Homo sapiens: one gene and its partner. The protein of the gene in region 2 purifies or fractionates together with the protein of the main gene of each other region. This does not show direct contact. Each region holds a gene or a part of one and is shown on either strand. Other genes may lie near its edges.

Evidence for each region. Proteins that work in one complex are often made in the same cells at the same time.
Region 1: the proteins of FAM114A2 (region 2) and TPST2 purify together in Homo sapiens (co-immunoprecipitation; one large-scale study listed by IntAct). This does not show direct contact.

Annotation. Positions count from the first base shown.
Region 1 is NC_000022.11:26,541,633-26,545,132, forward strand, and holds part of TPST2 (protein-tyrosine sulfotransferase 2), read right to left. Parts: intron 3,044-3,500; coding exon of another isoform or gene 2,972-3,043; intron 87-2,971; coding exon of another isoform or gene 1-86. UniProt on the Homo sapiens protein: Catalyzes the O-sulfation of tyrosine residues within acidic motifs of polypeptides, using 3'-phosphoadenylyl sulfate (PAPS) as cosubstrate.
Region 2 is NC_000005.10:154,004,411-154,007,910, forward strand, and holds part of FAM114A2 (protein FAM114A2), read right to left. Parts: intron 1-3,500.

The DNA.
Region 1 (3,500 bases), on a different chromosome or scaffold from region 2:
TGGGCCGGAGGCAGGGTAGGCCTGGCCTGAGGGCCCGCTTCTGGGGCTTCAGCGACAGGTTAGCGGGCAGCCCGCCAGGCTCACATCTGGGGAGAGAGGGGGACATGCATAGTCAGGGAGGTCTGTGAGCTGTGAGCTCTCCAATAACTGCAAAGCCCTATAACTGCAAACAAGAGGCTGCTGACATGAATGCAGAGGGCACCTTTCATAAGCACTAGCTGTGTGCCTGGCACCCTGCTGGGCACTTTTTTCAATTTTTTTTGTTTTTTTAAAGAGATGGGGTCTCACCATGTTTCCCAGGCTGCTCTTGAACTCGTGGGCCTGGGTGATCCTCCTACCTGTCTCCCAAAGTGATGGGATTACAGGCATGAGCCACCCGGTCCAGCGGATCATGAGGTCAGGAGATCGAGACCATCCTGGCTAACACGGTGATATCCCATCTCTACTAAAATACAAAAAATTAGCTGGGCATGGTGGCGGGCGCCTGTAGTCCCAGCTACTCGGGAGGCTGCGGCAGGAGAATGGCGTGAACCTGGGAGGCAGAGCTTGCAGTGAGCCTAGACTGCGCCACTGCACTCCAGCGTGGGCGACAGAGCGAGACTCCGTCTAAAAAAAAAAAAAAAAAAGGCTGGAGTGCATTGAGTGGTGAGAGATCATAGCTCACTGCGGCCTCGGACTCCTGGGCTCAAGCAATCCTCTGCCTCAGCCTCCCAAGTACCTGGGACTACAGGCACACACCACCGCACCTGGCTAATTTTTAGAAACAGGGTCTCGCTTCAAGTGATCCTCCCGCCTCAGCCTCCCAAAATGATGGGATTACAGGCATGAGTTACCCCATCTGGCCCAAGAATATTAGTGATTTCTATCATAATCATTGGTTATTTACTTATTCCAACATTTAATGAGCACCTGCTATGTGCTGGGAGCCTCAGCCTCCAAAGTCTACTCTTACCATGGACCTGTGCCTGAGAGAGATTGATGGGTTCTACCTGCGTAGGTGAGGGAAGGCCTCCTGCAGGAGGTAGCCTTCATGCAGAATTTTCAGTGGTGGGTAGGAAACAGGCAGGTGGAGAAGGGAAACAAGGATGTTACCAGCAAAGGGAATAGCCAGCGCAGAGCCACAGGCAGGAAAGGATGCAGCACGACTGGGGAACTGCAAGTGACTTAGTGAACGGAGGGTTTGGTGGAAGCCAGTGGGAAGACAGCATGCCTCTTTGGATGTGAGGTTCCACCCAAAACCACCCAAGGGCCCAGTCTGCAGCTGGGCCTATCCACCTGCAAGGGCTTGGGCTGCCTGGGCCTTCTTAGGCTATAGCAAGTGGAAAATAAACATCAAAGCGGAGGGAACACAGTCTCAGGCCTGGGGTGGAAACTGCTAAGAGGCTAGGACTTCCTGGCCATGTGGCTTGGGAGAGTCACTTCCCTCATCTTAGCCACAGTCTCTTCAGCTGCAAAATCAGGGTGGATCCACTGACCTCAGAGGCTGCTGTGAAAATATGAGAAGCAGCTGACAAACCAGAGATGGATCTCAGGCTGGGGTCACCGGCCTCTCTGTGCATTGGATAATTTCCCTCTCTTCAGAAAAACGTGCTGATGAAGTTCTGCTGAAGAGGTTGGGGCTTCATTTGTACCCTCGATTCAGGGTCTGTGATGGAGAAAGCTAATTCAGAGCTACTTCCTGCGGGGAGGCAGGCTGAACAGGACATGAAGCCATTCCGAAATCCCTGCAACGACCCTTTGTCTTCATCAGGTGCTCAGTGAAATTCTCCCCTGAGACCTGTGACCAGAATCCTGTCAGTTATTAGGATTTCAGTGACAGCATCCCCACCTTGGCTGATTTTTTTGTGTGTTTTTAGTAGAGATGGGGTTTCACCATGTTAGCCAGGCTGGTCTCGAACTCCTGACCTAAGGTGATCTGCCCGCCTCAGCCTCCCAAAGTGCTGGGATTACAGGTGTGAGCCACCGCACCCGGCCAGCTTCAGCATTTTATGTTCAGCAAAGGTGTTCGAAATTATGGAGCATAAACTCTGCTAAAGCATTTTCCCTGCAGTATCTAAGCTCAAAGAGATGAAGCAGCTTGCCCAAGGTTGCATGGCCAGGGCAGGAATCCTGGATCAGACCAGGCCAAGGCTGAAGAAAACAGCTCAAAGCAGGCAAGTCAGAAGTGAGCAGAAGACAGCAATGACCTGCACGATGGCTTAAGAAGAAAAAGCAGGGTGACTTGGGACACAGAAAGCAGCCTGGAACCCACAAAGCAGAAAGTAGCTTCCTGGTTACCCAGAGCTAGGGACCCCACTGTGGAAGGAGCTAGAGGGCCCAGCCCAGGGAACTAGGCCTGCCCAACACCCTCATCACCCTGCTGGACCCTGGCAAGGGAGGTATCCTGGCATCCTCGCAGTGAGGATGATAGGTGAGGGCTTCTAACTTGGAGTACTACACTCCAAGGTTCAAATCTCACTTCTGCTGCCACTTGCCAGCTGGTGATCTGGACAAAAGGTATCACTTCTCTGAGCTTCTACTTTCTTCTCCAAAAAAGGAATAATAATACCCTTTTCTCAAGGAAGCTATTCAGAAGGCCAAGGAACTCCTGTGGGGTACTGAGAAAGCATACCTAAAACACTAACATTAGGAGAACGGGACACAACAGCGTTTGGGTTCTGGCTTGAATCTGCTCCGTGACACTGGGCAAGTCCCCCGCCCACTTTGGGACTCAGCCTTCTCTCTCCTATCACCTGGAGAATCGTCTTCCTAATAGACAAGGAAGATGCTCATCTCTCTATGATGCTTGCTGGGATGCAGCTTTTTCTAGTACCAGATTTCCAACCTGCTGGCTGAACAGAAAGGTGAAAACCAGCCAGGGGAGTTTGCCCAGGCACCCAATCATGGAGGCTGGGGGCATGGAGGGGACTTTTGGAGGGCGGTCTCAGGAGGGGCCAGGACTCCAGGGGAAGTTCCTTCTAGGTGCACTTACCTCCCTTGGGCACTCTCATCTCTGGGCTCCAGCCCTTGTGCCTGTGTGCCAAGGCTGTCTGCTGGCAGAGCCCTGGAGAGGCAAAGGAGATATTGCATCAGGGATGGGCACTGTGGAGAGGGGCCAAGCCTTCAAAGAGGCAGAGTGAGGGTTTAGGCTCCCAAGAGCACTGGACAGTGACATTTGGGAGAAGGACTCTGGAATGCAGGGGAGGCTGCTTCAGCTCAAGATACCACAGCTGGAGTCTCAACTTATCTACTCCTACAGGGAATGAACTGGCTCACTTCTTAGGCAGAGAGGTGTGAGCTGAAGTCTGAGCTAAGGCGCCGCTGCCTTAGGGAGCCCCTGGTTTATGCCAACCAGGCCTCTCCCCTCCTCTTGGCCTAGGGACCTTGGACTCCAGGAAAAGTAAATATAACAATAAGCAACAACAACCACCACTACACACCACTATTGCCACCTGAGATGGCTGGGTATGGTTGATCAGGTTGTGGACTGCACAATTCCAAATGGTACCACAGGCCCAGCC
Region 2 (3,500 bases):
TTTCAACTATCCTCAACCTGCTGTTGACTCTTAGATCCTTATTTCTAGACCTGACCTCTCCTGAAAACTTATTCCAAATGTCTGCTAGACAAAATACTCTGCAGGCATCACACATACAACAAATAAAAACTTTGAACTCATTGTCTTTCTCTTCTTACCCCAAATTTTTCAACCTCTTTTATTTCCCAAAGTTTTAGAGGTGCCACCAGGTACCAGTTACCTGAGCCAAAATATAGGGGCCATCTTAGATTTTTTTCCTCTCCAACCAATCACCAAGATGGTCTGATTTTATCCAAGCCCCTCATCATCCTCTTCCCGTCTTCCTCCTCCCTATTACCACTACTTGAGTTCAGATCCACTTCATGACTGGTCTCTCTGCTTCTGATCTGTTTATCTTAAATCTATCTTCCAAAATGCTACCAGTGATCTGTCTTAAGCCCAGGGCTGACCATTCCTCTTTCCTTCAATGGCTCCTCATCAACTAGATCATGCTCTTTACATGATGTAACAGGTCTCCATGACCTAGACCCTACCTACTTTTCCAGCCTCATCTCTTATCATTTTCCACTTTATCTTCTGGTAAGAATGACCTCTACTGTACTTGTTCTTTCAATCCTCTACCCAGACATCATCTCTTTCAGGTAACTTAAATTCAGAACTTAACCAAATATAGTAGAATTATCTGTTTCCTAACTAAACTATGTATTATAGGATAGCTAGAGAGTGTTTTATTTGGCTTTGCACACCCAGTGTCCAGCACACTGTGAAGAACATCTACTGTTTTGGATATGGATATGACCAGCACCCATATCTCCTTTCTTTTGGTGGCAGGTTCTAGATTCTCCTTAGTTCATGTGACCTGGGTGCAGCTGCTTCCATCTTTTGGCTCCAAAAGTTGGCAAACCATTCAGATTTAGCTACTGAGAATACTAATACCCCTGTCCACAGAGTAAGTGGTGCATAGATTAAAAAGTAACCCAAGCCAGATCAATGGACATCAGTCTCAGGACATCTGGTAAAATTATCAGCAAAAAGAAGTGTTCTTTCAGTAAGAGTTACCGAAATGGAAAAAAGTCACCCACCCTGAAGCTGCCAATGGTCATTTTACCACCATATGGAAAAGCTTCCCTAAGAATGAAGCCAAAACAAAAAGGAAGCAAGCCGAAAGACACAGATAGGGATAGAGATAGGTTCCTGAATAGAGCCATGCCTGAAGCCAGTTCTGCTCCTTGATTTTCTATTTTCTTGAGCTACTGAATTCCCCTCTTTTAAATTAGTTTCTGTTATTTTTTAAGTTTCTTAACTTGAGTTTCTGTCATTTGCAAGTGAAAGAGTCCTGGTTTCTCAGAAACTGTTTATTACCACCTAGTTTATTAACTTTACATACACAGAATGTGTTCAAAGCTGTCATGAGGTAATAGGAATCCAGAGAAGACTTTGAGAGTCATTCTAACTGAGAAAACAGGTTTTATTACACATACAGTACTGGAGTTAGGCCTTGAAGGATCAGCAAGTGGGGCTACACCCAAGGCTACCCGAATGAGCTAAAGCAGACCTGTGTTCCCAGAATTTCACTGTAGGGTTCTTTCCCTATATCCTCCCACAAAAACATTCAGGAACAATCTAGCTCTGATCTATACCTTCCCATTACTTAAGCATTAACCTCTCAAATTCAAAACACCAAACAGCATGAACTATATAAAGGCTTGGAAACAGAAAAATGCAAAGTGTGTAGGCAAACAGTGAGATATCTAGCAAGACCAAAATATAGGATACTGGCATTTTACTCATTCATTTATTGCAAATATATACTAACACTGTGCCAGTGCTGGGGATTCAATGGTGAATAATACAAACTAGGAGTCTGCTCTTCTCTCTCCTAATAAGGCAATTAGCAAGCAAACAAACAAAAACATACATAAAGAAAATAAAATGGAGTAACGGTGGGTATGGGTAGAAGGTGGCTTGAGTTTGGGTGGTCAGGAAGGGTCTCTGAAAAGTTATGTTTCAGCTGAAATCTGAAGGAATTGGCCATACAAATAGTTAGGCAAAGAGAGTTGTAAGCACAGGGAAATCAGCTTGGTACACCTGAGAAACAGAATAAAGGCCAGTAAGGAAGAATATAGAGGATGAGGAGTGTGACAGAAAATTAGGTTGGAGTAGTGAGGTTTACAGAAGAGAACACTGAGAGATGAGGCTGGAAAGAATCATAACAGTTGACTAATAATACAAACAATATGTTAAATTCTTTGCAATATCTTTGAAGAGACAAATTGAGTAAAAAAATGAAGGATTAATTTATCAGAGATTAAAAAAGAAAAATGGAGAGTGATAGACCACATAAAAGAAAAAACGGATACCATAAATTTAATATACCCAAAGGAGATTTTTTTTTTTTTTTTTTGAGATGGAGTCTCACTCTGTCGCCCAAGCTGGAGTGCAGTGGCATGATCTCAGCTCACTGCAACCTCTGCCACACTGGTTCAAGCTATTCTCCTGCCTCAGCCTCCCGAGTAGCTGGGATTACAGGCACCTGCCACTGCGCCTGACTAATTTTTGTAGTTTTAATACAGACGGAGTTTCACCATCTTGGCCAGGTTGGTCTTGAACTCCTGACTTCATGATCTACCCACCTTGGCCTCCCAAAGTGCTGGGATTACAGGCGTGAGCCACCGCGCCTGGCCAGGAGATATTTTAGTAGGCATAGAGCATACCCAAAGTGACCTCTCTTGTAATAAATATATTAAGTGAAATCATCATGAACTATTGTGCCAACTCAAGGTAATTTATTATCCTTTCCCAAAATAATTAATGTCATCCACGACCACATTTCAGTCTGGAACTTCCCACTTGTTGAGATCTGCAGATCTCAATAGGTACCTTTGAACTTGGCTTCTCCAAAAGCTTATTTATTTCCAACAGAAAAATAATGAGGCCCACAGAAGAAAATGAATTTGCCCCAGGCCACACCACATGTGAGTATTAGAACAAGAATCAGAATCACAGAATCATATTCCCGGACTCCTAATTCAGTGCTCTTTCCCCTACATCACAGCCTGCCATATAAATCTTTTGAGGGCCAATGGTTAAGGCCTTGATCCTTAACCAATCTACATCTTAAGTCTCAATGCCTAAAATTTAAACAATCTGAAGATTGCTTTCAGAGAATGGCGAGAACTGCCAGACAGATAAGGAGTTACTGGCCTTACAAAAATACGTATTAATGTGATCTCTCATTAAGCATGTAAACTATGTCTTTTTCATGATTATTTCCCTAGCACCTAGCAAATTACTAAGCATAATAAAGGTTTATTGAACACATATGTATATTTATTGAACAGCTACATGTAGAGGACATCGGGCTGTCTTCTGTGGAGCCATCAACAGTGAGCATTTATTTACTATGAGCCAGGCCCTTTGTAAGAGCTATGTGTGTGAACACATTTAAACCTCACAGGAACTCTACATTATTACAACTCACCTCACAGATAGAAAAAAAT